Regions from separate parts of the Homo sapiens genome. Here all the other regions are linked to region 1. Evidence: fine-mapped expression QTL. A gene starts in region 1. Each other region holds a variant in brackets. All regions are shown on one strand. Distances are from middle to middle. Region 1 holds the start of AVEN (apoptosis and caspase activation inhibitor). Region 2 overlaps RYR3 (ryanodine receptor 3). Region 3 overlaps AVEN (apoptosis and caspase activation inhibitor). Region 4 overlaps CHRM5 (cholinergic receptor muscarinic 5).

Region 1 (8,108 bases):
AGCCAAGAAGTTTTTTTTTTTTTTCATTTTTTTTAAAGGGCGAAAATACAGCATGCTTGTATGCTAATGTGAATGATTCATTAGAAGGTACCAACTGATGTGCAGGGGAGAGTGGGAGCATTTGCTGGAAAGACGTCCCCAAGTAGGTGATCACAGATAAGATCTAGTGCAGTAATAGAGGCCTTGGCCTTGGACTGGGACAGAGACCCCTCTATACTAACAGGAAGGAAGGCAGACAATATAGGTACAGATACAAGTAGGCTGGGAGTTGTGGTAATGGCAACACTGGAAATTCTTTTCTGGTTGCTTTCATTTCTTCATGAAATAGAAAGCAAAGTCAGCAGCTGAGAGTGAGGGTGGAAGGAGAGAGGAGAAGATATTGTCATGTATTCTGTATTTTGGGAGTTTGCTCCATGCATTTTCAGGAGTTCTCTAATCATGACTCCAGCCCTTCAAGTCAAAGTACCCTTATGACTTATGACCTGGTAAGCTCTTCACTTTCCCTTTTCTCCACCAGAGTACAGGCTGTGGATTCCAGGCTGAAAGAATAGCTCATGCCAGAGTCTCTCCCCCTGTAGCTGGTGAGCACCCTCAGTAGTAGATGGAGCTGTTCAAAACAACATAGTAAATAAAGACATCTTTCTGAGAAACTTATGTGTTTTCCAGTTTGCATTGTTTATATATTAAGCACGAGAAACTAGCTAAACTATAGAAAATCTGCTTGCCTATGAAGAGAAGAATCAGGAAGAGGTACTTTCCCCACAAACTTTATATTTGCAAGAGGACAGTGCATTTTTTTCTAAGTCCTATCATAACATCTACTTTTCGTCAAACAGTGAAAGCCTATGAGATCCATAGTCTTTTTTTTTTTTTTGAGACGGATTCTTGCTCGGTCGCCCAGGCTGGAGTGCAGTGGTGTGATCTCGGCTCACTGCAAGCTCTGCCTCCCAGGTTCACGCCATTCTCCTGCCTCAGCCTCCCAAGTAGCTGGGACTACAGGCGCCCGTCACCATGCCTGGCTAATTTTTTGTATTTTCAGTAGAGACGGGGTTTCACTGTGTTAGCCAGGATGGTCTCAATCTCCTGACCTCGTGATCCACCCACCTCGGCCTCCCAAAGTGCTGGGATTACAGGCGTGAGCCACCGCGCCTGGCCAATCCATAGTCTTAGACTAGGAATTACTGGGTTTCTTGTGATGTTTGAAGGCTCAGATGCTACCTTGACACAGTAGTTGAGGATGCATCAGAATCAACTGGCAGGTTTATTAAGACACAGATTACTGGGCCTCATCCCCAGAGTTTTAATTCTGAATTTGCATTTCTAACAAGTTCCCAGGTGATGCTATTTTTCTGGCCTACATTTTGAGAACAACTACCTTAAGGAATTGGCTACCATTTTATTTAAAAAATAACTTAGGTTGCCGGGCACGGTGGCTGTTGCCTGTAATCCCAGCACTTTGGGAGGCTGAGGCGGATGGATCACCTGAGGTCGGGAGTTTGAGACCAGCCTGACCAACATGGAGAAACCCCGTCTCTACTAAAAATACAAAAAAATTAGCCGGGCGTGGTGGTGCATGCCTGTAATCCTAGCTACTCAGGAAGCTGAGGCAGGAGAATCGCTTGAACCTGGGAGGCAGAGGTTGTGGTGAGCTGAGATTGCGCCATTGTACTCCAGCCTGGGCAACAAGTGCGAAACTCCGTCTCAAAAAAAAAAAAAAAAAAAAACTTAGGTCATGTATGTATTAAAAATATGCAAAAAGTACAGTTTCGTTTCTAAGGAGCTACCTATATAATTCAGCACTTTGGTTTTGATACTCATGAATTCTCATGAGTCCTACCTAAGGGAAAACTGAATTTTTTATTCATGCAATGGCATATGTTTAAAATCAGGACTATCAAGCAAAAGCAATACCAGAAAAGATTCCTTCCCTTTGTTATTTATGCAATCCAAAGGTCTCTGGTTGCTCAAAATGCAGGAGGTACTTGTGTGGTATTTTTAAACCTTAATAACACATTTTTGGACCAGAATCACACGAGGACAGCATATACCGTATCCTTGTTGAAAGAACTTTGGCTAGTTGTGTCCGCTAATTAGGAAGTGCTAGAAGGGGGACCTCAGAATTTTCCTATCCTAAACACTCTTGGTTGAATTGAGAAAAACAAGATACGCCTTGAATGAACAGATGGAGAGTAACATACCCCCGGACTTCTGAGGGCATCTGCAGAATAGACTTACAGGCATGGATTCTGGAATTAGACTGTACTGGTATAAATCCCAGTTCTGTTACTTACTAGCTTGAGCAAATTATTTAACTTTTTTGCAACTCAGTTTTCTTATCTGTAAAATAGGAATAATAATAGTGTTTATTTCATAGGGATATTTTGAAGATTTAATGAGTTAGTACGTGGAAAGTGCTTAGAATAGTATCAGGTGCAAAATAAGTGTTAAAAAAACTTGGCATCATCCACAAACCAATCTCTCTCTAAAATGGCATACCTTTCAAAAGTGTTACTGAGTCTTACACTGACTAGTTGAAAGTATCAAGCATAGTGAATGTGCCCTAATAACACTGGCTTAATCTGCAAGCCACTGATCTTTTCAACCTCATAATTTTGGAGGCTTCTCAAGGGATAGTTATATAGTTCCTTAAAGCCCTATTTCCCACTGGTCTCGTCTCTCACTACATTGGAGATGTACATATTAATCTCATACCAGACATTTGCCCAAATCAGGGTTTCTCAATGTTGGCAAATTTAAGGCTGGATAAATTTTTGGATAAATTACATCGGTAGCTCCTTAGATACTAAAACGTACCTTTTGCACCAATCTATCTGTGCTAGTGGTTCTCATCCAGGGTGATTGCCTCTCAGGGAACATTTGGCAATGTCTGGAGATGTTTTTGGTTGTCTTAATGAGGGGGAGAGGGGTTCATTCTGGCATCTAGTGGGTAGAGGCCAGGGATGCTATTAAATATTCTACAATGCACAGGATAAGCTACCGCCACAAAATGTTACCCAGCCCTAAATTTGCCAACATTGAGAAACTCCGATTTGTGCAAATGTCTAGTTTGAGATTAATGTGTGGATCTTCAACTTGGTGAGAGGCCAGACCAGTGATATGCTGGTAGATATTTAACCATATTCTTCCATGCCCCTTCCCCACTGCTATGGTCTAAATGTTCATCTCCCTCAAAATTCATGTTGAAATCTTTTTTTTTTTTTTAGACAGTCTCCTTCTGTTGCCCATGTACAATCACAGCTCACTACAGCCTCAACCTCCTGGGCTCAAATGATTCTCTATCTTAGCCTCCCAAGTAGTGGGACTATAGGCATATACCACCATGCCCAGCTAATTTTTGTAGAAATGGGGTTTCACCATGTTGCCCAGGCTGATCTTGAACTCATGTCTCAGGCAATCCACCCGCCACAGCCTCCCAAAATGCTGGGATTACAGGCACGAACCACACACCTGGCCTGTAACTGTGTAATCTTGGAAGTTACTTAACATCTGTTTTAGATTCCTGATCTGTAAAATGGAGACAACACTAGCTTACCTCGTAGGCCAGCTATTAGTCCCAAATGAAGTGATATGAGAAGTATGTAGAATAGTGTTTGGTGCATATAAGTGCTCTACAAGTGTTACTATTTTTAAGACTGTTTCTCTGGAGTTGACAATCCTTCAATAGTTCCCCCTGTCTGGAAGGCGCCCCTACTCCCATTTACCAACCAGGCAAACTCCTACTCAACCATTAGGCTTTAGCTCAGGGGTCTATTTCTCATGAAGCCTTGGGTAACCCGTTTAAATATAATTTAACTTTTCTTCTTTGGACCTTGATCTTGAATCTCTCACTGCACTCAGCAACACGGTACTGTAATCATCTATTCACACGACTAGATTATCTTCCTTGTGGGCAGTGAGCTACTTGAGGGCAGGGGCAAGGTTTTTTTTTTGTTTTTGTTTTTAATTTCAGGACATAGCACTGTGCCTGATGCAGAGTAGGCAATTAGAAGCAATGAAAAGTATTAACTATGTATGGATATAGGAAAGAACCAGAAAGTACTGAGGGGGAAGAAAACACTTATTCTGCTAGGCTGACATTTTAGCCCTTGCTTTCATTATTTTCAGGTGGTTTCAGTCCCAAGTTAAAAACTGCTTTCATGCATCTGTGTAACCAACTGTTCCCCTTCCTGTTTTCTCCTTGGTTGAAAGAAGGGACTGGAGTGAGACCGCCTTAGAATGCCAGTTCCACCACTACCTAGTTATTCACTTTAGTCAAGTTTTTTTTAACCTTTCCAAGGCTGTTACCTCACTGCAGAATAAGGATGACAGTCATCCCTACCTCATAGAGCTGTTATGAGAATGAAATACTCATGTGCTCAATAAATGTCAGCTGTAGTAGTCATTTCTACAGAAATTCTGCTGAGGACTTTGACGCCCTTTCTAGCCATCTCCCAGTTTCGCACTGTTCTCTCTCCCACGTGCTGCAGTCCACCTCTCACCAGACACAAACTCTTGTCTTTACATCCACACCTCCTGAACCCTGACTTCGGTATAGTTTTAAAATGATACACATTCGTTGCTGAAAATTAGATTAAACGGAGGAAAAAAAATTAACTCACTTCAAATCTCAGCAGTTAACCACTAACATTTTAGTATGTATTTGTTTAGACCTTTTCTTATGCAAATACATACGTTTAAACTTTTTTTTTCCGAGAGTTCACATCATACAAATTTTATTTTATGACTCGTCCTTGCACTTAGCACGGTCTCTCCCCCAACCTATCTCTGATGCCTTGAGAATCCCCCCGCCCCGCTGCAGACCCCCACCACTTCCAGCTCCCAGCGGTCCGGCCTTCCCGCGGTCCCGGTTCCGGCCCCACCTGCGGGACGCCGGCCGCCCCGCCCCGCCCCGCTCCGCTGCGGCCGGCCTCGATCCCTAGCCCCGCACCCCGCGCCTCGCTGCTACCGGGCGCCTTTCGCTCGCGGCTCCTCCGTGCGGCCCGCTTCCGGTGGGGCCAGGGCGTCTCCGCCGCAGCTCGGCTCCCGCGCGCTCAGCACCGCCAGCGGCGGCCAGATGCAGGCGGAGCGAGGAGCTCGGGGAGGCCGTGGGCGGCGGCCAGGCCGCGGCCGGCCTGGCGGAGATCGCCACAGCGAGCGGCCCGGAGCCGCAGCGGCGGTAGCCAGAGGCGGCGGCGGAGGCGGCGGCGGGGACGGAGGCGGACGCCGGGGCCGTGGCCGTGGCCGGGGCTTCCGCGGCGCTCGCGGAGGCCGAGGAGGAGGAGGCGCCCCGCGAGGCAGCCGCCGGGAGCCGGGAGGCTGGGGCGCAGGGGCCAGCGCGCCGGTAAGAGGCGACGGCTGGTGGGGCTGGGACCGCGTGTAACTGGGGCAAGTGGGGCCGAGGCCGCCAGTCAAGAGCCGCAAGAGAGCGTGCCAGGCGCGCGCCAGACGGGCGGCGGCGCCGGCGCCTGCGCGGGACGGGCGGATGGTGGCGCGGGGGCGCGCCTGGTGGCGGGGGCGCGCCTGGGTATGCGCTTGGCCCTCGTGGCCTCCTGGCCGGGCTGGCGCGAGACAGTGGGGGTAGGAGGGCTTCCCAGCCTGCCCCAGGGTCCGGGTTAGGAACCCAGAGGCCAAGGCCGTGTGTCAGGGCTGCAAGTCTCGGCGGCCCGTGGGCCGGCTGGGCTGTCTGTACGAGTACCACTATGGGACGGAGGCGCGGCCACGACGTGGTCCCTCGGCAGCCTTTACGGGCACGCTCCTGTTATTAGGAGGGAAAGGATTTTTTGGTCTGTTTTGTTAACTGTCTGTGCAATGCCTAGTACACAGTAGGCGCATAATAAAAAGTTTGTTGAGTGAAAGAATGACCCCTACGACTGGACTCTAGTATTTGGGGGCGGGACCAGATGCATAGTTCTTTGTAATAGCGTAGTTCTCTTTTATTATGCCTGTATGTGTAGAAATCAGCGAGCACTGGGCTTTGTCGTTTTGAATTTTCAATTTATAAATGAGCAGTCAAGTTCTGAGTTTTAATAGCAATATCATCAGTCTTATTGACACATTCATAGAAGGAAGTTTTTGGAGATTGGAGCAGGGGATGATATATATGGGGGCAAAGCTAACCATATCTCAGCTAAAGGAGTTAGAGGACTGTCTTTTTATGAGTTGTTCTGTTACCTTAACATCTGTAGGACAAGACCATCTTTATATTCTGCATTCTTATGCACACTGATTTAAAAAATTCTTTTTTGCATGAGGCAAAATTTGCTCTTACTGAAGTATTTACAATATCTTGAGGGCATAGCAGATAAGATATCCCTAAAGAGAGTAGTTGTATACAGCAATACAGAGCTGGAAAAAAAAGTATAAAACTTAAATTTAAATGTAACAAACTTAAATCTTGTTAGGATTAAGATAGGTAATAGGCAAAACTTGAATGAGATATAAAAACATTTTTAGGGTCAGTTTACCTCGTGTAAACTGACAGAAACTAAGGTAAATGACAGAAACTAAGACCAACCTAGTGCCCACTATATATCACATTTTGTTCTTATAACTCTATTATATATATATAATATATATGTAATGTAGAATTATGTAATATAATAGTATGTAATTATATATTAACTACAATGTTATATATTATTTATATATCCATATATAGAGAGTAATCTTTATTTTTACAGGTTAACTGACTTGCCTAAGCTTTCACAGCTAGTGGCAGAGCTGGGATTTATATCAAGCTGCCCTTGAGTCAACAGTATTTTATCTCTTACTTTTTCGTGAACCAGTTACCACTTTATTGAGAACAAAGTAGATATTCCTTAGCTGCAGGGATCGTGCTTTAAGAGTAATTGTAGTAATGGTACATTTGGTGTTAACTATGGTGTCTGGCGCACAGGACTTTACTAATAAGTGTCTTTAAGTTGAATTGAGTGAGTGAAGGTGCTTCTGTTTTGTTAATCTCTGTTGAATTAAATTGGGTGAAATGATGGTATATATTTTTTTTTTTTTTTTGAGACGGAGTTTTACTCTTGTTGCCCAGGCTGGAGTGCAATGGCATGATCTTGGCTTGCTGCAACCTCCGCCTCCCGGGTTCAAGTGATTCTCCTGCCTCAGCCTCCCAAGTAGCTGGGATTACAGGCATGAGCCACCTTGCCCGGCTAATTTTGTATTTTTAATAGAGATGGGGTTTCACCATGTTGGTCAGGCTGGTCTCGAACTCCTGACCTCAGGTGATCCACCCGCCTCGGCCTCCCAAGGTGCTGGGATATGGATTACAGGTGTGACCCACTGCGCCTGGTCATGATGGTATATCATTAAAAGAAAGAATAATACAAGACTTTAAAAAATTTAAGATAGTATTGTAACACATTCTGTTAAAATTTTAGGCTTTTTCTTTTGTCGAGTTGGTCTTATCCCTTCATCATCATGTTTTCAGCCAAAGCTGGAGGGAGGGATGTTGGGCAGATTGTTCCTTAATTTTGGTTTGGATTGGTCATCTCTAAGTTCCTTCCATTTCTCAGATTCTGAAGTACTGTTTGTATTTAGTCTTGCTAGGACACCATTTTTGGTGCTTAACCATTACATGAGACAAGATTGATTGACTTTCCTGAAGCCTTCTTGTTCTCATATCCCATGGTGCATTTGTGCCCCAAGGAGAGAGTAACCGAAATGATCAAAGGAAAAAAAAATCATAATAGACTCCTAGCCATGTAAAGACCAGTTGTCCACCTTCAGAAACCAATTTTGTGTACACCTTTGCTTTCTATTTTGGACCACTGCATACAAATGGAAAACAAAATCAATCTAACCAACTTCTACATAGCTATGTAATACTCCAGGGTAACTTAGTTGAGTACTAAGTTGAGTACATCTCTTAGTCTCTTGCTCTTAAATCATTCCTTCTGTAAATGGTCTGAGCTCTAAGCTTACTGATTATGGGTGAGCATAATTATCTTCACGGAATACTCACTAGAAGCATTATTGTACTAGATACAATCATTAACTTTAAAAAAAAAACACAAAACTGGCTGGGTGTGGTGGCTCGCGCTTGTAATCCCAGCACTTTGGGAGGCTGAGGTGGGTGGGTCACTTGAGTCTGGGAGTTCGAG
Region 2 (8,108 bases), 190 kb after region 1:
TGGCTTACTCTGGGCAGTGCCTTTTTTCTCACGAAGATCTGGCCTGACGGGACTCCCCCTCCCCACCTCCAACCTGATCCTGCTGCTGGCTGTCCGCAAAGAACCTCCGACTGGCTTGCTGAAATAAATCAAGTGCTTAATCCCGGTCCATGGGACTTTGCTCTCTGTTCTGAGAGACGATGATCAAAGCTCAACTTCCATGAAATTTAGACACTGGTTTCATTCATAATAATGTCTCATCTTGGCCAGGTGCAGTGGCTCACGCCTGTAATCCCAGCACTTTGGGAGGCAGAGGTGGGCAGATCACCTGAGGTCGGGAGTTTGAGACCAGCCTGACCAACATAGAGAAACCCCATCACTACTAAAAAAAATACAAAATTAGCCAGGTGTGGTGGTGCATGCCTGTAATCCCAGCTACTAGGGAGGCTGAGGCAGAAGAATCACTTGAACCTGAGAGGCGGAGGTTGCAATGAGCTGAGATGACGCCATTGCACTCCAGCCTGGGCGACAAAAGCAAAACTCCATCTCAAAAAAATAAAATAATGTCTCATCTTTACCCCGGAAATAGATGAATGATGACGCCACTGTGCAGGGTGCTTCCCTTTCCACGGGGCTTAGATGTGTGGTAATGAAAACTACCTCCATCACTTCTGTCTTCCCAGGACACTCTCCTGTTTGGAGAAGACATCTGTCTTCTACTTTAATCTCTGCTGTGCTCTGTAACTAACTCTACAGTTCTCAAGAGCACCCCCACACAGCCCTTCTTCCCAGTGAGGTGGTGGGGCGGGGTGGCCCCGCAGTGGGTGGGCTGGCCCCGCAGTGGGTGGGCTCTCACCGTCATCATGTCGTCGCACTTCATATCGGGCTCGTCATCGTCTTCGCTTTTGTTGTAGAACTTGCGGAAGAAGTTGAAAGCCACCACAGTATAGAGATAAACCACCACGGCCAGGAGACCGACAGTCAGAACCAACTGGGAATGAGAGGACAGAGAAAGGAAAAGGAGTGGGGTCTTCTCTACCTTGAAAGGTTCACAGGAGACTCTAAGAAAACGAGGAGGAAGAGTGAGGACGGGCAAGGAGAGGAAATGGGGAAGGGGTGGAGGGCGGCTAAGAAAGCTATCAGGCCATGAGCAGAGGAGGAAAGATGGCACCACAGGTAAAGAGAAGCGGGCTTCCTGGCAGAAAAGAGTAATGATGGGGTGTTGGGGGCTGAATTGTGTCCCTTCAAATTCATATGCTGAGGTCCTGGCCTCCAGTACCTCAGAATGTGACTGTATTTGGAGATGGAGATACAGCCTTCAAAGAGGTGAGTAAGTTAAACTGAGGTTGTTAAGATGGGCCCGCAACCAATCTCACCGGCATCCTTAGAAGAAAAGGAGTTGGAGACACAGAGAGAGAGGCTAGACACAGGCACACGTGAAGGGACGGTCAGGGGAAGCGGCAGCGAGAGGGTGCTGTCTACAGCCACAGAGAGGCCCCTGAGGAGACCAGGTGCTGGTGCTGCCAGCACCATGATACTGGACTTACTTACCGCCTCCAGAACTGTCGAAAAGACATTTCTGTTGTTTAACAAAATAGCAGTCTGTAGTACTTCGTTCTGGCAGCCCAAGCAGACTAATGTATAGGGCATTAGATTGGGCGTAAGTAAAATATAAAGGAACTTAAGTATTGAATAGTGCAGGTGCTGTGAGGAGGGATACATTGTGTTTTGTTATTGTTCATACAGAGCTAGCTGTTACCTGAGGCTTCACAATGTAGCTTCTACTCTAATGCTGCTGCTTAAAAAACCCCAGGCCGGGCATGGGGTGGCTCACGCCTGTAATCCCAGCACTTTAGGAGGCCGAGGCGGGCGGATCACGAGGTCAGGAGGTCGAGATCAGCCTGGCCAACATGGTGAAACCCTGTCTCTACTAAAAATACAAAAATTAGCTTGGCGTGGTGGTGTGTGCCTGTAATCCCACCTACTTGGGAGGCTGAGGCAGGAGAATCGCTTGAACCCAGGAGTCGGAGGTTGCAGTAAGCTGAGATCGCGCCACTGCACTTCAGCCTTGTGGCAGAGTGAGACTCCGTCTCAAAAAAACAAACAAACAAACAAACAAAAAACCCAAAGGTTCTTTGGACTGGTGGATATCCCTACCTTATACTATTTCATAAATAATCATGCACTGGATAATTGTCACAACTTTGAAGTTACTCTAAGAATTATGATGGTGGAGCTGAGTCACACTTTTTATTACAGAGAATTCTGCCCAGGCCCTTTGCAGTGTCCTAGGGCACGCTTACTTCCAGGCTTTAGGAGTGAGAGTTCACTGGCTTAAGTGAGGAGTACACAGGACCTGCACATCTGACCTCTCTCAAGGACTAGGCATTGAGCTGGGAGATAGGAAGATCAACAGGATCAGAGCTTTGCCTTCAAGGAGCCACACAAAAGGGAGTGGGTAAGTGTGAAGATCAGCACCAGAGGAAATGTATTCAGCAGACTTGAGGGAAGAATAGTGACTCAAACCTTGGAGAGCAGACCTCACAGAAAGCAGGTGGTTTAGGAAAAAAAAGAGAAAGAACTTGGACTTTGCATCAGGGAAGAAAAGGGGGTGAATCTACGCTCTGCCACTTAGCAGCTGTGTGGTCTTGGGTGAGACATTTAGCTGCTCTGAGCCTCAGTTCTCTTATCTGTAAAGTGAGCTTAACGTGTGCCTTACCAGGTAGTTGTGAGGCTGTCACAGTAACTGGGACACGGCATGAGCTTGGCACACTGTAACTTCCGTCTTTTCTCCCTCTCCCGTACAAAGGTTTGGACATGTGAGGAAGCCTGTCTGTCATACACAGACTTGTACTTAATGAGGAATGAAATGCTAAACAGTTTGAATCTGTATACAAGGAGAAGCCATTAGAAGATTTTAATATGGTTATAGCCGTTGCTATATCCAGTCTCATCAATATCCAGTCTTCCATATATTGTCAGAGTCAATTTCTTGATTATATATTAACTATATAATATGTATTAACTATATAATGTATATACACACATAAAATGTGTACTATGTGTATAACAACCATATACATATGTGTGTGTGTATCTGAAATCATTGGCTCTTAATTGGATGCAGATATCAGAAATATTGGCTCTTAATTGGATGCAGATATCAGAAATACCTGGGGAGTTTTCTGTGTACAGTATGTCTACTTGCTAACCCCCAGGGAATATATCAGATTCATGGAGGAAGGGGTAGACCTTAAAAAGATCTCCGGCCGGGCACGATGGCTCACACCTGTAATCCCAGCACTTCGGGAGGCCGAGGCGGGTGGATCACCTGAGATCAGGCGTTTGAGACCAGCCTGGCCAACATGGTGAAACCCCGTCTCTACTAAAAATACAAAAATTAGCCGGGCATGGTGGCATGTGCCTGTAATCCCAGCTACTCTGGAGGCTGAGGCAGGAGAATTGCTTGAACTGGGACCTGGGAGTCGGAGGTTGCAGTGAGCCAAGATCCCACCGCTGCACTCCAGCCTGGGCTACACAGCGAGACACCGTCACAAAAAAAAAAAGATCTCCAAGGTCATTCTGACATGTCCATCACCTCCCTCCCTCTCCTGGTTGATCTAAATGTCAGGGGTCACTGAATCAAGGTCTTATGCTTTTTAGATGATGGTTGCAGTTACATTTTTAATTGGCTACAATTTTGCAAAAACAATCACCATTAGTTGAAGTGTTTGGCCAAGAAAAGTACATTATATACCAAGACATATTCCTTCCTGTCATATACTGTATACTACCTGCTGTTCTTTTTTTCCTGTGCATATACAGGTCCATTCTGTTCTGCATCAGTAGAAACCATACCTGTTTGCCATTGTGAGTTACAGATGACAGAATGGTCCTCAGTGTCTTGAAGCCCATTGCGATGTCCAATAGGTGAGCAGCAAAGAAGAAGTTATTGTAGTGGCCCAGGACTGACATGGTTGTATACCAGGCAAGGTAGAGAAAGGACTGGGAATGGAAGAAAGCAGACTTTTAAGCATGTTTGCCTCATAGTGTGCTCATTATAAAACATTTTTTCTTATTTTGGGAGACACACTGAGGATAGAGGGGGTTTAGGTGCTGAGGTGCTGTGAGCTGGCCCAAGATCTGCTAAGTGAGCCCCATCTACCTTATACCATTGTATAAGTGTTCCCCCAGCACGTATAAGGCTCTTGGTCTTTGATAAGCAATCCCTGAACCCTTCTGAGCATCCTGCATAGCTTGCTTCTCTGTGGCATCCCTGAACTGGGGTATAGAATTTTGTTTTTCCAGGTGCAGTACTTACGTTGTCAGTAAAAACAACTCCAAGCTTCCAGATATGGTACTTCATGTCTATGGAACTTAGCCTAGAGAAGAACAAGTGATTTTAAAACTTATAAATGTCAAGAGGTAGTTAAGTGCTCAATAAGGGGGAAAAAGTAAGTTTTTTCTCTCAGGTTTAATAACCTAAATATGGCTCTCAGCTTTATCAAGTTGTATGTGCTCCCCATGAGACAAGAGAACAGTTGAATCACATAGCCTGAATTTTTTTTTTTTTTTGAAACGGAGTCTCACTCTATCA[C/T]CCAGGCTGGAGTGTAGTGGCGTGATCTTGGCTTACTGCAACCTCCACCTGCCAGGTTCAAGCGGTTCTCCTGCCTCAGCCTCCCAAGCAGCTGGGACTACAGGTGCCCACCACCACGCCTAGCTACTTTTTAAAAATATTATTAGTAGAGACGGGGTTTCACTATGTTGGCCAGGCTGGTATCGAACTCCTGACCTCATGATCTGCCCACCTCAGCCTCCCAAAGTGCTGGGATTACAGGTATGAGCCACTGCGCCCAGCCCAACCTGAAATTTTAATTAAGTCTTTATCTTTCAGCTCTATAGGGCATAAAAATGTATTAGTCTTCAAATTTTTAAGGCAGTGCTCTCCCAGTGTTAGAACCTAGAAGAAACACCTAAGCCAGACCACAGCCTGAGAGAACAAAGACACGGTTGTGATTTTTTCCTATGGAAAAGCAAAGATCTATCTATTTTAGCTGCTTTGGATTTGAACTCCTAAGCTTTTTGTACCATGACACCAGAGAAGCCGCTTCTGCTTTGGTCTCTTCTACTGGGCTAAAGTCAAGAGCATTTTTGTCCAAACCCAGAAGTTCAGCAATGCGTTCTGCTCCGTAGAGATCTCCATACTTGTTGATCACCTGAAGCAAAGGATGACAGGGTGAGCTCAGGCCACACGCCACCACCAAATATTTTCTAGCTCTGGGGTCTTCAGAGCTTTGCTGCCCTATGGGCAATCTTCCAAGGGGTAGATGAAGACATAGTTCAAAATGCAGAAAAAAGAGAAAACCCAGAGAAAAAAGCAATGAAGACAATTAAATGATAACTGTTTTTTAAGCTGATACTGATATCTTGATTTGCAGGGGAGAAAACATCTACTATGCAGAAAACAATGAGGACTGTGTTAACTTGTTTAAGGCAGATGAGTATATGAATGAAGCCAAAAACCTACATATGTTCATATCCAACCCCTTCTGTGACTTACTCTTCTTGAGATATTATCATAAAAGTAGCATCACATTTACTCATGTTTGTATGTGGAGAACTTAAAAAACATACACCACATTTTTTGGTGATCACGGAACTCACCCCCACTAACAAGGCATACCTTTCTCTTTACAAACTTGTCCCAGTAGTTATTAGGAAAAGATCTGAAAAACAAAACGAAAAAGGTTGGTTCTTCATTCTTAACATCAAGGAAAACACATCAAGAAACGTTTCAGTTTGAGTGCCTGGATCTGGGATCTTTCTGGTTTGTGTCCTGCTCACCAAAGAATTTTAAGATCTGATTGAAGTTCAGAGTCATCACAGGCTCTACTGAGTCATGTATGGCTTCATTACTTTGTATTGGCTTTTGAAACACTCAGAAGGCCACTGGGCAGTTTCTGCCTCAGAATTATGATTTGGAGCCAAGAATTGTGATGACAGATTAGACAGAGACAGTTGTATGTTTCTAAGTCCTTTCCCTAATCCCAGTATAACCAGAAACAAAATGCTACAGAAAACACAGGCATTCCATTCAATGAGTCACTACTTTATGTCACCTACTGGGGTAGATAATGGCGATGCGGGATGTGGGGTGTGGTAGAAAGTGTAGATAAAGTCCCTAACTATATGCAGTTTCCAGTCTGGGAATCACCTTTAGTTTATTTACATTGGATTTTTTAAGCTGAGTGTTTTTCCACTCTATTTTCTATTCCCACGTAATGCCACAGGGCCTGCTTTCCTCCAGGAGTTGGATCCCTTTCTTTTTTGGAGATGGTTCTGTACCATCCCCTAGCATCCCCAGAGAGATGATCTTTCTTCTCTCTGTAGCTTGTACCAGCTCCACTGCAAATATTTCTTACTGTTAAAGTTAAGAAAGAACTGTCATCTTCAGGAATGCTTGCAAAAACCATTGAAAATATGTTGTTCCTATCCAGAATTACTGAATCCTTCCTGTGGGGGGGTTCCTTGTAAGACTGGATTGCAGCCTAGGAGTCTCTGGCCTTTGGTGCATGCATTCTTACTTTTGTTTTCCTTTATTTGATTCATTCTTTTTGGTTCTAGAACACAACAGTTCCCTATTCTCCAGAGACCACCCAAGTTGGTGATAAGGAAATGGAGACCTCCTACTATTCACTGACCTCTCATGCCGCCTCTCCCCCAACAGGGTGGCAGTATTTAAAAAAAAATGTTTTTTTTTTTTGGTTTGTTAAAGCAGTTTCTTTGTCTTAAACATTTAAATGCCACTTGAAAGCAAAAACAAATGCTGGTGTTACAGAGTAAACTGCTAATATTTTATCTCTGGGGGATGAAAATAACAATTATTTTGACTTTCTTCCTTGTACATTGCTCCTTGATTTTTTTATGCACTGCATTTAAATTGAAAATAAAACAAATAAAAATCAAGCCATGCGCTCTCTGCCACACTGATACCTCCTTTCTCTTAAATCATTTATACAAATGGTAACATACAACTCAGCCTGGTCGCATTTTCTCCTAAGCAGAAGATTCCACGAGTGATGCTGAAGGGCCAAGGACCACAGGCTCTGGGCATGACCCCTTCATAGATGCGGTCTTACCTTCATCTGAGCATTCTGAATTTCTTGTCCCCTGACTAGGTATGCAAACTCCTTGAAGGTAGAAAACAGATTTTTTACTTGTTACGAGTCCTTAAAGTGTGGCATAGAGAACAGACCTTCAGAAGGAAAGTGCATAAATAAAGAGTACATCTGTACATGAATGTTCAGGGAAAAAGTACAAGATGCTTAACCCATTTAGTAATCAGGGAAACATACAATGAGGTGCCACTATACACCTACTAGATCAGCAAAATTATCTGCCAGCAATAAGTGCCAGCAAATAAGCAGAGAAGAAGAAACTCGAATATAGTACTGTTTGGAGCATAAATTGGGACAAACATTTTGCATATCCTACTATTCAGCAAATTTCTCTCCTGGGTCTATACTCTAGAGAAATCCTTCAACTTGTGTATCAGGTATAAGAATGTTCACTGTAGCACTGTTTATAAAAGCCAGAAACTTTAGAAAACAAGTTGAAATATCTACTGTCAGGAAAATTGATCAATGTGATAATATACATAATGGAAAATGCTACAGCTTTGAAAATGAACAAACTATAGCTATATACATCAACATAGGTGAGTTCCCAAACAATGCTAAAAAAAATTCAAGTGACAGTATAATGTATATAGTATAATTCCACTTATATTAAGTTCCAAATAGTCAAAATAGTCAAAATATATTTAGGGACAAATACCTAAGTGGGAAAACTATAAGGCAGGAGAATGAATATCACTAATATCACTGATTGCTAATTATTTAAGAATTAATATTACTAACCACTAATGAACATCAAAAATGTAGATAGCTGTGGGTTGGGAAGATATAATCAGGGAGGATAATACAGGGGATTTTTAAGCTCTCAGTAATGTTCTATTTTTTTAACCTTTTTGGTTTATAATTATACTGTAAAATGTACATATACATTTTATATGTTCTTATGTGTGCTTAACAATATAAAAGTAAAATGTTTAAAAAGAAAGCTCCCAT
Region 3 (8,108 bases), 28 kb after region 1:
ATGAAGGGAAAGGGGGAAATTTGTAAGAAAAAAGAGTCATGTGGCCACATGCAGAGAATCAAGTACCAGGAAGCAGATAATTGACCAGGTGAGATGGAGAGGTCAGTACCCATGCGAGCCCAACTCAGTGTCTATTAGTATTGTAAGTTTACTACATAATAAGATTTTTAAAAGTCTGTTGTTTTGTTGATCTGATAGTACTGTGCACTTCATTCTAATGCAGAACCTAGGAGAGATAAGTTGCTTTCCGGTTTTGTTTTTGTTTTTGTTTTTTGAGATGGAGTTTTGCTCTTGTTGCCCAGGCTGGAGTGCAATGGCACGATCTTGGCTCACTGTAACCGAGTAGCTGGAATTACAGGCGTGCACCACCATGCCCAGCTAATTTTGTATTTTTAGTAGAGACGGGGTTTCTCCATGTTGGTCAGGCTGGTCTCGAACTCCTGACCTCAGGCGATCCGCCCACCTTGGCCTCCCAAAGTGCTGGGATTACAGGCATGAGCCACCGCGCCCAGCCGCTTTCCAGTTTTATGTCACATAATGGTTACTGTTCAGATCTGAGGGTGTATTATTTGAAGGAAAGTTAAGAGTGCATCTAAGGAGCCAGGAATGTACTGTCTCCAATTGTTGATTCTGCTAACGAATGGTAATTACTCTTTCATGCCTCTCATTTTTATCATTTTATCTTTGAAATAAAATAACACCTATGAGAAAGATATAAGGACTTGGAGAAGGAAAGGGATGGAGTGAAGATCCGTGTGAGACGTGTCATTGAACATTAGCTTTGTGGGTTGGTTTACCTTTTTGTCTGTTAGAGTCTCTCTACCCACTTTTTTTTCCCTCATGTGTTGCTGTTTCTGAGCAAGACTGAGAGCTGACAACTGTTACTTTTTTATTCTTAGCTCCTAAAGACCGAGGGTGGAATTTTTAGTTAGTTTAATTTCCCAAATTATCCTAAAACAGTGAGATTGTATTATAATAAAACATTTTTGGATATTTTGTGGAATTTTTTTATTTTTTTTTATTTTTTGAGATGGAGTCTCGCTCTGTCACCCAGGCTGGAGTGCAGTGGTGCGATCTCGGCTCACTGCAAGCTCCGCCTCCCGGGTTCACGCTATTCTCCTGCCTCAGCCTCCCGAGTAGCTGGACTACAGGTGCCCGCCACCGCACCTGGCTAATTTTTTGTATTTTTAGTAGAGGTGGGGTTTCACTGTGTTAGCCAAGATGGTCTCGATCTCCTGACCTCGTGACCCGCCTGCCTTGGCCTCCGAAAGTGCTGGGATTACAGGCGTGAGCCACTGCGCCCGGCCTATTTTGTGGAATTTTTTAAAAAGTGCTCCTTTGTTATCTTTTTCCTTATGATAACAGCTTTGAATGGGATTTGACTGTGATCCTTTGTTGTTGCTCATCTTCATGGAAAGCCAGTTTTCCCAGCTTTTAGAAGGGAGACACACTGTTAAGGACAGCTTTTCAGGCTTCAGGACTCTAGAGTACCAGAAGTCTTCTGTTGTCTTGAAGTGATTAAAAAGATGGTCCCTGCTTCTCAAATCCGGCACCCCTCACCCCCTGTATCTGACCCTTCCTTTCTGTTTATCTTTTATTATTCCTCTTCTGCTCAATTTGAATTCTGCCCCCAGGAGTTTTTCTTCAGAGTGGAGTTTTGTCTGGCAAAAGAGCTTTTGGCCAGTTAGTTTTGAGAGGTCAAGGGGCCACATTCTCAGCTCCTTCAGCCTTAGCTGCAAATTCCTTGAACTCACCAGCTGTTGGAGTAGACCCAACATATTTAGCCGCTGTTCCCAGATGGGCCCGCTGAACTTTCCAGTTGAGTGCCTGTTGTTTGTTTTGGGATGCCCAGGTCTGTCAGATGCTGCATTGATCCCATCTCTGCTTCCTCTCACAGACACTGGTACCTACCTTACAGGTCTTGTGACTATTGGTGATTTGTACCTGTTCATCTTTGGGACTTTGTGGAGATACTTTGTCACCTAGGCTTTTGTGGCTGTTTCCCATGGATTTTTGATTTTGTTACCCTAGTTGCTCTTTGTATTTTTTATCAGGGGACCTGGGAAAACCATACTGCTGCTGCTGCCATCTTCCCAGAATCCTCAAACGTGGTTTTTGTTTTTGTTTTTTTTTTTTTTTTTAATGAGATGGAGTTTCGCTCTTGTTGCTTAAGCTGGAGTGCAATGGCACAATCTTGGCTCACTGTAATCTCTGCCTCCTGGGTTCAAGCAATCCTCCTGCCTCAGCCTCCCAAGTAGCTGGGGTTACAGGTGCGTGCCACCACGCCTGGCTAATTTTTCATATTTTTAGTAGAGATGGGGTTTTGCCATGTTGGCCAGGCTGGTCTCAAATTCCTGACCTCAGGTGATCCGCCCATGTTGGCCTCCCAGAGTGCTGGGATTGCAGGCGTGAGCCACTGTGCCCAGCTAAATGTGTTTTTCTTTTTTAAAATTTCCCATTGTTGATCTCCCCGGGTTTTGTTTTGAACAGCTGTTATCTCTTGGTTAGAAGCACGTTCTTTGCTAATACCAAGGCAGGGGATAATGTGAGTTCCCTCTGTTCTTGAGGTTGGGAAGAGTCAGCAGGCGGAAGATAGCAGCCGTTCCTTCAGTAGGCTCATCTCAGGCCGTGAGTCTACATCTAGAGCAGAACTGTTTCTCGCTCATGGGTCCTCGTACATACTCTTCCCTCAGCCTGTGATGTCATCCTCCTGCTTCCCACTGGCTCACAAGCCTGGTCCTGAAGATGTCCCCCATTCCCCCTTCTCCCCCATTGGTGATGTTTTTTCTGTGCTTCCGTAACATCTTGTGAATGTTTTATAGTAGCTGATATCACACTATATATGTTTACTTCTCCGTGTTTCCCACAGCACTGTGAGTTCTTGAGGCCTGGGCCCTTGGCTTATTGGTCTTTGTATTCCCAATGCCTGATCCAGTGCTGGAAGTCAGTAACTACTCAGGAAACACTGTTAAATGAATATTGGCAATTTAGTGGTGCAAGGAGCAAAAGTAGCTCTCTGTGGACATATTGCAGGACAGACAAATGTAACAATAAGTGCCACTTAGAGTTGTACTTAAAGAAATAAGTTTATCCTGGGAAGGAACTATCAAGGTGACTGTTTTTATTTTCATTTTATTTAAAACATTTGGCCAGGCCCAGTGGCTCACACTTGTAATCCTAGCACTTTGGGAGGCCAAGGCAGATGGATTACTTGAGATCAGGAGTTTGAGACCAGCCTGGCCAACATGGTGAAACCCCACCTCTGCTAAAAATACAAATATTAGCTGGGCGTGGTGGCGCGCGCCTGTAATCCCAGCTACTCAGGAGGCTGAGACATGAGAATCGCTTGAACCCAGGAG[G/A]CAGAGGTTGCAGTGAGCCAAGATTGCGCCATTGCACTCCAGCCGGGGCGACAGAGTGAGACTCTGTCTCAAAAAACAAACAAACAAACAAAAAAACCACTGTGATAGGAGGAGACACTGGTCAGGTCCTTAGTATGCTACATTCATTTTGATTATAACCATTAAAAAAGCTGGTGGGGAATTTAGGAAATTTAAAACAGACCATGACAATGATTAAGAAATTGGAAATTTGTGCTTATAAAGGAAAAAATAATGGTTAACTTAGGTGAAGAGTAAACATAACCCCAGAACCTAGCCGTAGGACAGACTGGTGCAATGTGATTTCTGCATGTTCTTGCTTGAGGGCAGAGGCTTGACCTATCTAGGTTCCTTCTAGTTCAGTAATGCTTTACTTGTTAAAGTTCTCTTCCTCTGGCGACTTGAGAGTTTGGAAAATATCTTCAAGTGGGCCAGAAGACAGCTATTTAATGGTCTGATTTTTCTGGAAAGTGGAATGTGATGACATTAAAACCTGAGTGACTAAGGAAACCAGACTTACGCTGGTAGATAAGAGAGTTGAAAATTTAACTGAGACAGAGACAAAAGAAAATCTGGCCATTTGCAGCATTAAGCATATGCAGTGAAATCCCAGCAAAAATGGAACAGAGAGGCAGATGTACCTGAAGCATCCCTTTCCGCCTTCAGAAAAACAGTAAATGGTCAGTGGCAATGGTTCAGGTAAATATATTTTGCACACCAAGATCACCCAGAAATGCTCAGGGTATTTATATAAAGATATTTTTTATACAGATGACCTTTAATCATATGATTTAACAAAGGAAATGTTTTACTTATAGGCCTTCTAGTTGTGTCACTACTTATTGTGTGTGTCTGTGGATTAAATAGATTGGCAAAGCAAAACGGTATCTTTTCTCTCAGATCATAACCACGTCAAGAAGCAAATTGTCTTTATATAGGACCATTTAATGCCTTCTTTACTAGAAAAGTTGTTGATGGTAATCTAGCTCATAGACTTTACCTGGGAGTTGGGACTTGCAAAATGGCTTAATTTGGTAATTTCCAAACCTTGTTAAAAAGCTTCAGAAGTCCCAAATTCTTATAAGAAGCTCATTTTTTAAAGCAGATAAAATGAAACTGATTCTATTGCCATTTCCCCCTTCCTTTCTACAAGGACTCCCTAAAAGGACCTCCACAAACTGTAGTTTAAAATCACTAATTAGTCCAATAAAAGTTACTCCAGTCTAATTTCCCAAATTATCCTTAAGTCATTGAAGCATAGAACTCGCAAGGTCTTGACTTTGAGAAATCCCATAGTCTGTCCCTGGTGTGGGCTGCCTACAGATGCAAATTACCTTCCTGTGCCTTCCAGTTTTAGCCGACTTGGAAGCAAAATGACACACATGAGAAAGATATAAGGACTTAGGGAAAGAGAGAGATGGAATGAGAGGCCTGTGAGATGAGTGGTTGAACAGCTGCACTGAGGGTTGAGTTCCCATTTTCTTGGTTGTGGGATGCCTCTCTCCTCCCTTCCCCTCTGCTTTTTCCATATACTGACCACAAGGAAGGACAGCTGTATATACTTCTTTTGCTAGAGAAACAGTTGAATTTGACTATCATGTGGATCATTTTATTCCCATTCTTAATGGCCACAGTATTTTGGAGCCCAATTATTTATTATTATGTACATTGTTCTGGGATCAAGAGATAATTCACATATATGCCATATACTGCATTTATTAATTTTTTCAAATATGATCATGCATATCTTATTTAATATACAACATATATTTTATTTAATACACAAAGACAAATGGAAACGCCCTTTTTTGTATATCCGTATCCTTTTTTATTCAATGTTTTATTGAAATTTCACTTCTTGAAAGAATTGTTTTTGCTAGCGTAGTTCCCCCTGCCTTTTTTTCCTTTTTCGTATAGGCCTAGTAAACAAAGTTTTTTTTGAGACAGAGTCTTGCTCTGTCACCCAGGCTGGAGTGCAGTGGCATGATCATAGCTTACTGCAGCCTTGAGCTCTTGGGCTCAAGTAATCCTCTTGCCTAGGCCTCCCAAAGTGCAGGTATTATAGGAATGAGCCACCATGCCCGGCCCTAGCACACTTTTCAAATATCGAAAACTGTCATTGAATTCTTTAATTATGATGGTTTATGAGTTTTTCTATTGTTAAAAAGATAATGTTTTTTAATAGTGAAAAAAGTAGTGTAAGTTGTTGCTTATGGTCCAAATGATTATATAAGATAAAAATGACCTTAATAGGTTTACAAATATAAAAGTTGGCAATTAACTATTAATCAGTTATATATTTTAAAGCTCAGTAACATTAAACATTTTGAAATGGGCTGAATTAGTATTATTTTTCAGTTATACACATTGTAAAATTTTAATTGAGAATATTTGACATTAGTAATCACTGTGATTAGTTTTTGGTGACTTTTTTGTTGGAGGGTTTCCTTAAATGTGTTCTTTCTCATTTCTTTCTATTCTACCTATTCACCTCTATGATATAATTTACCTTTTGTGAGGAACATAGGAGGTGGGTGAAAAATGGTGTGAATGTTTTTGAACTCCTTACTAGCTTCAAAACAGGAAAGCCTTTTCTATACCTTTTTGCTCCAGAAGAAAGTAGAACCAGGGACCTGCAAAAACTAGGTTCTTAAACATAAAAGGCTTTAAATAGGATCTGTTGTCTGGTTGTTATATGTTATTAGTATTAATAACTTCTGAAATTTTACTGGCTCATCTGAAGGCTCTTGGTGATAGAGATAATCTGTAAGTATTCTCTTGGCAACTTCTTTTATTTATTTATTTATTTTGGAAAGAAAAGGTAGGATATTTAATGAATAAGGTTGTCCAAATATACTGTTCATAGGTGGGCCAGTTAAATTAAGCAGATTATAAATTAATGTAAATTATTGTTTATTTATTGTAAGTTAAATAGGATGGTAGCTTCAGTAAGTAAATCTTTTTATTGTTTCTGTTAAGCATATGGTTCCTTTTGTCTAGTCAGTCTAATCCATATTAAAGGTAGGGGCTTGAAGTTTCTAACTATTATTGTTAAACTTTCTATTCTCCCTTCTATTCTGTCAGTTTTTGCTTCATATATTGTGAAGCTGTGTTCCTAGGAGCATATGTTTATATGTTCATAATTATTATGTTTCTTTTTTTTCTTTTAAGAGACAGGGTTTCACTCCATTGCCCAGGCTGGAGTACAGTGTCATGATCATAGCTCACTGTAACTTCAAACTCTTGGGCTCAAGTGCTAGGACTACAGGTTCATGCCACCATGCTCAGCTAATTTTTTATTTTTATTTTTGTAGCAATGCTCTCTATGTTGCTCAGGCTGATCTCAAACTCCTGGCCTCAAGCGACCCTCCCTACCTTGGCCTCCCAAAGCATTGGGATTACAGGCATGAACCACTGTGCCTGGCCCTATTGTTATATCTTTTTGATTGACCTTTTTATTATTATGTAACAGCCTTCTTGGTCTTTATAACGATTTTTGTTTTAAAGTCTATTTTGTCTGATATTTATGTAGTCATGCTAGCTCTTTAGTGTTTGCATAGAATTTTTTTATGCTTTTTCTTTATTTTACTGCTACTTGTATCTTTGAATCTAAAGTGAATCTCCTGTAGACAGCTGTAGTTGGATATTGATTTTTTAAAAAAATCTATGTTATAGGCCCAGCAATACAATTATACACATATTGTTTTATAGAATTGCTTTTAAAATCAGTAAAGGGAAGACAAGAGAAGAAATATGCATTTATGTGATATTTTATAGTTACATAATTACTGGTTTTTTCATGTGGATTTGTTTTTTTCATGTGGATTTGAATTGCTGTTTAGGACCACTTGTTTTTAGTTTGAAGAACTTTGTTAGTGTATCTTGTAAGGTGGGCCTGTTAGAGCAAATTTTCTTACGTTTTGTTTATCTGGGAATGTCTTTTTTTCACCCTCACTTTTGAAAGATAGCTTTTTTGTATGTAGGATTCTTGGCTGACAGTTTATTTTTTTTCCTAGCAACACTTTGAATATGTTATATTATTGCCTTCTGGCTTCCGTTGATTCTGATGAGAAGTTAGCCATTAATTTTCTTTGGGTTGCCTTGTGATGAGTTGGTTTTTCCTTTTTCTTGATTTTCAGTGTTTTCTCGATGGTCTGTGTGTGTGTGTGTGTGTGTGCGCGCGCGCACGTGTGAGTGTGTGTTTTAATTTTATCTTAACAAAATGGAGTGGGTCTGCAGAATCCTTGTTTTTGGCTTTTAGCTTTTTTATTATGTATCTATGAATCTCTTTGCATATACACTAGAAGTTCATTGAGCTTCTTGGATGTATAAAGGTTTTTCATCGGCTAGGCACGGTGGCTCACGCCTGTAATCCCATCACTTTGGGAGGCTGAAGCGGGCAGATCACGAGGTCAGGAGATTGAGACTATCCTGGCTAACACGGTGAAACCCTGTCTCTACTATAAATACAAAAAATTAGCCTGCCATGGTGGCACACGCCTGTGGTCCCAGCTACTTGGGAAGCTGAGGCAGAAGAATGACTTGAACCCGGGAGGCGGAGGTTGCAGCGAGCCGAGATTGTGCCACTGCACTCCAGCCTGGGTGACAGAGCAAGACTCTGTCTCAAAAAAAAAAAAAAAAAAAAAAAGGTTTTTCATCAACTTTGGGAAGTTTTCAGGCATTATTTTTCTTCTTTTTTTTTTTCTTTTTAAGAGACACGGTCTTGCTCTG
Region 4 (8,108 bases), 25 kb before region 1:
CCGAAATTGTTTTTAAAAATTGGACTGTAGGGGCTTGGCGCGGTGGCTCACTCCTGTAATCCCAGCACTTTGGGAGGCCGAGGCGGGTGGATCATGAGGTCAGGAGATCGAGACCATCCTGGCTAACACGGTGAAACCCCGTCTCTACTAAAAATACAAAAAATTAGCCGGGCGTGGTGGCAGGCGCCTGTAGTCCCAGCTACTGGGGAGGCTGAGGCAGGAGAATGGCGTGAACCCGGGAGGCGGACCTTGCAGTGAGCCGAGATTGCGCCACTGCACTCCAGCCTGGGCAAAGGAGCGAGACTCCGTCTCAAAAAAAAAAAAAAAATTGGATTGTAGGTGCTCTTAAAAGATGACTATATCATGAAAGACAGAAAAGCTGTAGACAGATTAAATAAGTCTAACCATGACATGACAACTAAATGCAATGTGTGATCCTGGATTAGATATTGAACTGGAAAATAAATTTTTATAATGAACATATATTAGTTTCCCAAATAGAAAAACTAGTAAAATTTGAGTGTGGACTGTAGATTACATAATAACATTGTAACAATGTCAAATTTCCTGATTTTTATATTTGTATTGAGGTTATGTAAAATAATCTCCTCCTTCTTAAGAAATACACACTCTAAGGTCAGACGCGGTGGTTCCTGCCTGCAATCTCAGCACTTTGCCAGGCCAAATCGGGTGGATTGCCTGAGCCCAGGAGTTCAAGACTAGCTTGAGCACCATGGTGAAACCCTGTCTCTACAAAAAGTAGAAAAAATTAACCTGGCGTGGTGGCGTGCGTCTGTAATCCCAGCTACTTGGGAGGCTGAGGTGGGATCACTTGAGTCTGGGAGGTCGAAGCTGCCACTCCAGCCTGGATGACAGAGTGAGACCCTGTCTTGAAAAAAAAAAAAAATGAATGAAAAAAGGAATACACACTCAAGAAGTATTTAGTGGTAAATTGGCAAGAGGTCTGCAACTTACTCTCAAATGGTTGAGAAAAAAATGTGCACACACACACACACACACATACAGAGAGAGCAGGCACAGATGTGGCAAAACGTTAAGTGCGGAATGTGGGTGAAGGACATTAGGAGTTCTTCTTATTACTCTTGCAACTTTTCTGTAAATTTTAAATGATTTCAAAAAAGTTTTGTTTTGTTTTTAATTGCTTCCAGCTTCTTCTTTGACAATTAAACTTTTTTCCCTTCTTCCGCTCACTCTCGATCTGGGGTCTTTATTGGGCAAGAGTTTACATAATCTTGAACTTTACCAGTAAAATGATGTGGGGAAGATGGAAATTAGTATCACTTACAATGGGAATGGAGTGGGGCACCGACTCTTTAAATAGTTGACAAGGAAATGCTGCTGCCCCTTTTTGTGCAGTCTCCACTCGGTAAAGGACTGTGGTTTCAGGTCTGCCCCACCTCCCTTGTCCCATAGGGAAGGGAAAGCGTTTTACTCACAGATCTCTTGTCATCATTATTTAATCTTAGTTTGGTCATTGGTAACTTAGAGGGAAGGAGGAATCACAAAAGGTAGCAAGAAGGACGTGTATCCATACTGTGTATCAATCCCAACTTTCTTGAAAGGCCAGGCCATGCAAAGGTGTGTGGGAAACCCAATATAGATGGATCTAATAGGCTACTCTGAAACAATTTTCTTATTTAAATGCTCTGCATTGGACCACTGTGCGGTTAAATTTCTTTAATATCTAGAATAGTGCTTATACAATACAGAAAAGCAGCCCAGTCCCCATATCCTTTGCTGTAATTCCAGTATTTACAGTAGACAACTGGAGATTCTAATCCAGAGGTTTGGGTACAGATTTCACAATTACAAAGAGCTGGCATCAGTATTGTCTTCAAAGGACATTCACCAAAGGAGCGAAGCAAAAGCTGAGAATATTGACAAAATGCTTTGTTCAACCAAAAATTGAATGGAAAACAGATTCCCTGACAAGTCATCAAATTCACAGCCAAGGGGAAACAAATTACAATGATAGCAAAGTAACAGCATCCAGTAGGTAACTAGCCAAAGTCATACATGGTTTACTATAGACAAAGCCTGGAAGACTGGGGGCATAGAAGGCCTAAGATCTCAAGTCAGGCCATGCGCCTCCCACCCACCCATCAGGTCCCTGTAGTTTACAATTAGGTCTATTCATTCTGAGGACCCCACTAAAGCCGCTATTCTATAGAAGTCTAGTTGTCCCTAGTAGTTTGGGATATTTTTTGTCTATGTCAAGAGGCATAGGTAGTCTGCAAAACTGGCTGCTTTCCAAAACCAATGATAAAAAAAGAAGCATTGACCTCTCTCTCTCTCTTTTTTTTTTTGAGGCAGGGTCTTGCTCTGTCACTTAGACTGGAATGCAGTAGTGTGATCATAGCTCACTGCAACCTCTAACTCCTGGGCTCATGCGATCCTCCTGCTTCAACCTCTGAAGTAGCTGGGTCTACAGGCACACACTACGATGCCCTGCTAATGCCCAGGTATTTAAAATTTTTTTTGTAGAGACAGGGTCTCCCTATGTTGCCAGGCTGGTCTTGAGCCCCTAGGGTCAAGCAGTCCTCTTGCCTCAGCCTCCCAAAGTGCTGGGATTACAGGTGTCAGCCACCACACCCAGCAATACACTTCTTAATCAATTTCACAAAAGATGAACAAAAAAGGCCAAGTCCTAAGCAAGTGCGGAGTGTGCGAGGAGTGCCCTCCATGGCATCCTTTCCCGATTTGTGTTCTTTTGTTTAAATTAGCTTGTTTCACTCTCAACTGCGAATGGTGAATGCCCAACATGGGCTTAAAAGCCTATTCTCATGAAGGGGTTTTCATCTTTATCAGGAATCAAAGCCTTAAACGAAGACTCAACTGTTTATCTGGCGCTGGTAGAGCAGGTTTGCTCATGAAGTCACACCCAGTTGGCATCACGGAGGCCCGAAAGCCTCTGTGCTGGAGAACTGAGCCAATTACTGTTCCCACCGAATTCTTTGCAGGTGTCAACCTGCCCTTTACAAAGGCTCAGCAGATGCACTGCTTACAAGATGTTTCATGTCAACGTGAAGTCTTTATAAGGGACCAGTCCCGTCCTGCCTGAGATTCTACTACCCTGAAGCCTCCGTGGGACATCCTGTGAGAGGCTGATGATGCTCTTCAGTGGTAGGCTGAAGCTCTCCCATACTCAGGTACATATCTAATTCCCAGGACAACTAAACCAGCTAATTTTCCATCCTCTTAGCAAATGAGACTGAAAAGGACCCGGCCTACACTAAGACGCATGAAGTCTGGTGATTTTTAAGTCCAGCTGCAGATGTAACCAACGAGTTAAATAATGTCTGACAGGAGTGCTTCATCTTTAAAATCCTTGCTGTGTACCACACTACTGCTTCTTTGTGGACTTTTGTCCACAAAGGTCCTTTGATTCCGTTTGTTTATACGCACTTAGAGATTTCAATTAAGTGTGGTTTTTAATAATCCTCATGCTGTCATGCATGTCAACTGTTTTATTTTTATGTATTACTATGACCTACA[C/G]TTTGTTTTTAAAAATGAAGCTTTCAGATCATTTTCAGCTTCATCGCACCCTCAAGTGTGCTTTTCTGGCCTTCTCATTTGTGACCGAATTTGGAGAGGAATAAAGAAGTCATTTTTAGGCCCTGATTTGAAGGACCTATAAAAAAAGACTTTCTACCCCCACCTCACCCCACAACCCCCTGCTTGGAGGCAGCACAGCTGACCTGCTTGCGTCTTGGTGTGAACTGGGGATCTGAACAAGGGAAATTGGAGGCTGCAAAAGGGCTCTGGAAGAAATTCAAAAGCAAATCTGTTTTCCACATTTTGCTCAGGTTTGCCCTGTGAAGAGATTAGAAAGCAAGATCTCTGAAAACAATATAAGAACCTTAATTCAACAGCCTGGAGAAAATCTTCAGCCAGTGAAGGGCTCTTACACAATTAGTCTTCCTAAGAACAGAGCATAAATAAATGGGTTCAAATGGGCACAAAATAGAATGCACAATATCTGTTTAGATAAAAGAAAAAATTTCCACTGGCAAAAACTAAAATAACTGACTGTGGAGACTTGATCCATCTTTATTAGTAGAAAAGAGGCCCCTTGAAAGGACTGGGTATGACCAGGTTTCAGTCCTTCCAGACTCTGGATTCTGAGAGGAAGGATGGTTCCCTGGAGATCAGCATGGGTTCAGTGAGTACAAGGAATTGACATTGGATATGAAAGGGAAGAGCAAGACCTTCACTCAGATGTGGGGACAGGAAAACAAACCACAGTATAGTATAGACCACATAATAGCTGCATAATAGATAGTGATCAGTTTATGAAGATACATATTCTTAGAAGCCTGTTGAATATCAGTCTCGTTAACAAGTGACACTGTTGTACATTCTCCTGCTGGTTCTCACTGGCACAAGACAGCTTCATAGACACATACATATTGCACAAAATTCTATGACAGGTTTCCACAGGAAAAGGTTTCCACCTGGTCTCTGCTGTTTCCTACAGAAGGGGCATAAGTTCCCTGAGTCACTGTTCATTGTTACCCAGTGTGCTTCCTCTTGTGAAGGGCCATGAGCCTATCCCTTTACTTCATTGGCAAACTCCCCTGGCATCAAATGGCCTTGGTCATAGGCAAGAGTCATTTAATATGTCAGCAATTGCTGCAGCTATGGCCCCTTCCATTTGGCAACCAAACTTGAGCCTTTACAAAAATCTTCAAGGACTCAAAATGAGATGTCTTCTTTTTGAAAATATACAAACCAGAATCAGCTTGCTCATCCTCAGAGGATGTTGACTGTGGTCATTGTTCTTTCGAGAGGAGTTGTTGACTTTTCAGGGTAGCTTGCTGTTCCCCTGCCAGTACAACTTCTCTTCCACTTTTTTCTTTTTCCATCGGCAGAGAAGCAGCATCTTAAAGGTCTTCCTGAAGGTTCTGTTGCAGAGGGCATAGCAGATGGGGTTGACAGTGCTATTGACATAGCACAACCAATAGCCCAAGTGCCACAGGGTGACTGGGACACACTTGTCACAGAAGGTAGAAACCAGGACCATGATGTTATACGGGGTCCATGTGATGATGAAGGCCAGGAGAATGGCACTCAGTGTCTGGGCTGCTTTCCTCTCTTTGACTAGGACCACTCTCTTTCGTTTGGTCATTTGATGGCTGGGGTTGGGATTGAGGCCTTTCGTTGAAGGTTCCTTGGCCACTGGGAAGGGGCAGGGCATGATTTTCACCTTGTGACAGCCATTGTTGGTCTCCTGGTTCCCGTCAGCTTTTACCACCAATCGGAACTTATAGGCCACACATTTCTGACTCTTGGGTCTATGAGCAGCTGCTGGAGACAGAAGGTAGTTTGGGGTGTCATAGTCACTTTTTTCAGTTTCAGCTTTCACAAAAGTTTCCTCAGTCTCTTCAGCACTGAATTCTTCCCCTGGGCTTTCCTTACCCTGACTCTTGTAGACCACTTGGAGGACAGGGTCAGTGGCGGGCTTGTCCTCATCCTCTGAGGAAGGGTAGCTGCTACAGGTGGTGAGCTGCTCAGCTTTGGCCCAATTGGCGCTTGGGCCAGTGGCTTGGGATGGCTTCCCAGTGGTGGAGGTGCTCCTGCGGGAGGATGACCAGGAGGCCTGGTTCCTTTCCCGCTGGGCCAGGGTGGGTCGAGGACAGCGCAAGCAGGATCTGAACAGAGCCCTATGAGCTGGCTTTCTCTTCTCAGCTTTGGTCACAGAGTCAGAACCCTGGAGGTCAGCCAGGTCCTTGGTTCGCTTCTCTGTTTCCCGGTAGATTCGACAGTAGAGGATGGTCATGACAGAAACAGGGATGTAGAAGGCAGCAATGGCAGTGCCAAAAGTGATGGTGGGCTCAGAGAGAAACTGGATCTGGCACTCATCCAGTGGAACTGTCCGCTTCCCAACCAAGTACTGCCAGCAGAGGATTGCTGGGGCCCAGAGGATGAAGGAGATCAGCCAGGCCAAGCCAATCATGATGCCAGCCCTTTTCGGAGTACGCTTGGCCCGATATGTCAAGGGTCTTGTGATGGAAAAGTAACGGTCAAAACTGATCACCAGAAGGTTCATGACAGAAGCGTTGCTGGCCACGTAGTCCAGTGCAAGCCAAAGGTCACAAGCCAGACTCCCGAGAGCCCAGCGTCCCATGAGGATGTAGGTGGTGTAGAGGTTCATGGAGAAGATTCCAATGATGAGATCTGCACAGGCTAAGCTGAGCAGGTAATAGTTGTTAACTGTCTTGAGCTGGCTGTTGACTTTGAAGGAGATCATGACCAAGACATTGCCCACAATGGTGATCAGGCTTACCACAGCAGTCACAGCTGCAATGGTGATGACTTCCCACAACCTGTGGCGTTCCAAAGGCTGGTGATTTACTGGGGTGCCATTGACGGTGGTTGCATTGTGGTAAGAATCCCCTTCCATCCTGGTGCAAAAATTTTACAGTAAATAGTGTTAGGTTCTAGGCTGTTTTCTATTTCAGCTCTTCTTGGCCAGCATCTGGAAGAGAGGGAAACACATTAGCTTCGCACACCAGCATGATTTTCTTGTCCATCCATTGTTTATAGTTTTTTTTTTTTTTTTTTTTGAGACAGAATCTCGCTTTGTCACCCAGGCTGGAGTGCAGTGGTGCGATCTCAGCTCTCTACAAGCTCCGCCTCCCGGGTTCAGGCCATTCTCCTGCCTCAGCCTCCCGAGTAGCTGGGATCACAGGCTCCCACCACCACGCCCAGCTATTTTTTTGTATTTTTAGTAGAGACGGGGTTTCACTGTGTTAGGCGGGATGGTCTCGATCTCCTGACTTCGTGATCCACCCGCCTCGGCCTCCCAAAGTGCTGGGATTACAGGCGTGAGCCACCGCGCCCGGCCCATTGTTTATAGTTTCTAATGGAATATTAAACGTGGCTGCACACATATTCAGAGCAAGATGCTGAAATCTCTAAAGTTTGATCACCTATTTTTAATGGCATCCTTTTGCTTTTTGTTGTTACCTATGGCTGAGTGCCCTTCTTATGCATGAGGCTGCTGCCCTCTTGTGGCAATTTTAAAAAGGGCTGGGAAGACGAGGAGGGTGAAGGGAAAGGAAAAAAAATGGATTGTTGAGAAGCAGTAAAGAGAGGAAAGCAGGGATGTTAAATCACTTTAGATTGCAATGATCATAAGGGCTGAAACCCTATATTTTTAAGATCCTGGTGATAAATACCTAAATCGTCATGCACTGGGGAAAAAGTGGTATCTATTCTATAGTCCCAGTCTTGATTATTAAACATTACTGAGGTGCCGTTGTGAGCCAAGACCATATTATACCACCTCTCCTTGCCCTAATGCACAAACTCCAAGTGCATATCTGGTTTTCATCTAGGGGGTTTTACATTTGCCCCAGCTGCTGAAGATAAGGACCTTCTCTCTGTTCCTGAACTATTTGCAATATCATAGAATTGTTTTAGGTTATCTTTTTTCTGGTTATAGAGTAATACATTCCTTATAAAAGCTCAAACAATGTCAAAATGTAAATCTTAGAAAGCAAAAGTCTCCTCTAATTCCACCTTGCAGAGGTAATCAATGCTAACAGTTTAGTGTATATTTTGGCATTTTCCCATATGCATATACTAATAAATAAATATTTAAATACAATTTCCCCTATGCATATACTAATAATTATTTTAAATGGGTGCCTTTTACCATTTACAATTTGAATTTTGTTTTTTACTTAACAAATGAATTATCACAGACAGCTTTTTATCAGTACATCTAGAGCTACCACTTTCATTGTAATGACTGTACATTATTCCACTTAATGGATGTACTATATTTAATTAACCCTCTGTTGACAAATTTTAACTTTCAAAACTAAAATGAAATTTTCCCTTTGTAGATTAAAAAATCTATGTACATGATAAAGATTTCAGTGTGTACTAAAGGGTAAATTGTAGAAATTAGGTCTCCCTCCCACCTCTGACCTCCAAGCTTGCAAGCTCCCCATTTTCAGAGGTAACCACTGCTACCATTTATTTTTCCTTCTAGAGATATATATGCATACAACATAAATTTGATGATATATAACAAACACCACCTTGACATGATAATGGGCGGTAAAGGGAAAAAAAAA

The links. PIP is the estimated chance that this variant, and not a neighbour inherited with it, causes the effect.
Region 2: its variant is fine-mapped to the expression of AVEN in whole blood (TOPMed, PIP above 0.99).
Region 3: its variant is fine-mapped to the expression of AVEN in spinal cord (GTEx, PIP 0.97).
Region 4: its variant is fine-mapped to the expression of AVEN in subcutaneous fat (GTEx, PIP 0.99).

What each region holds. Positions count from the first base shown.
Region 1 is chr15:34,036,013-34,044,120 of GRCh38, reverse strand. AVEN (apoptosis and caspase activation inhibitor) reads left to right here and starts at 4,917. Exons shown (of 6, transcript NM_020371.3): 1 at 4,917-5,341. The coding sequence starts at 5,075. All of the region lies in intron 1 of CHRM5 (cholinergic receptor muscarinic 5), which reads right to left. RefSeq lists silencers at 4,825-4,994, 5,175-5,384, 5,475-5,534, 5,885-5,944.
Region 2 is chr15:33,850,642-33,858,749 of GRCh38, reverse strand. It overlaps RYR3 (ryanodine receptor 3), which reads right to left. Exons shown (of 104, transcript NM_001036.6): 95 at 5,663-5,705; 96 at 5,068-5,195; 97 at 4,301-4,361; 98 at 3,838-3,984; 99 at 836-970. It also overlaps a transcript of AVEN not described here. Among named protein-coding and RNA genes, the nearest start is that of CHRM5, 110 kb to the left of the region's middle. RefSeq lists enhancers at 1-429, 4,569-5,768. The variant C/T (reference allele first, on the strand shown) is at 4,577.
Region 3 is chr15:34,008,401-34,016,508 of GRCh38, reverse strand. All of the region lies in intron 1 of AVEN (apoptosis and caspase activation inhibitor), which reads left to right. The region is part of intron 1 of CHRM5 (cholinergic receptor muscarinic 5); the gene reads right to left. Among named protein-coding and RNA genes, the nearest start is that of AVEN, 27 kb to the left of the region's middle. The variant G/A (reference allele first, on the strand shown) is at 3,360.
Region 4 is chr15:34,061,034-34,069,141 of GRCh38, reverse strand. CHRM5 (cholinergic receptor muscarinic 5) reads right to left here. Exons shown (of 3, transcript NM_012125.4): 3 at 1,684-6,499. The coding sequence starts at 6,424. The coding sequence ends at 4,826. It also overlaps a transcript of AVEN not described here. Among named protein-coding and RNA genes, the nearest start is that of AVEN, 26 kb to the right of the region's middle. The variant C/G (reference allele first, on the strand shown) is at 3,517.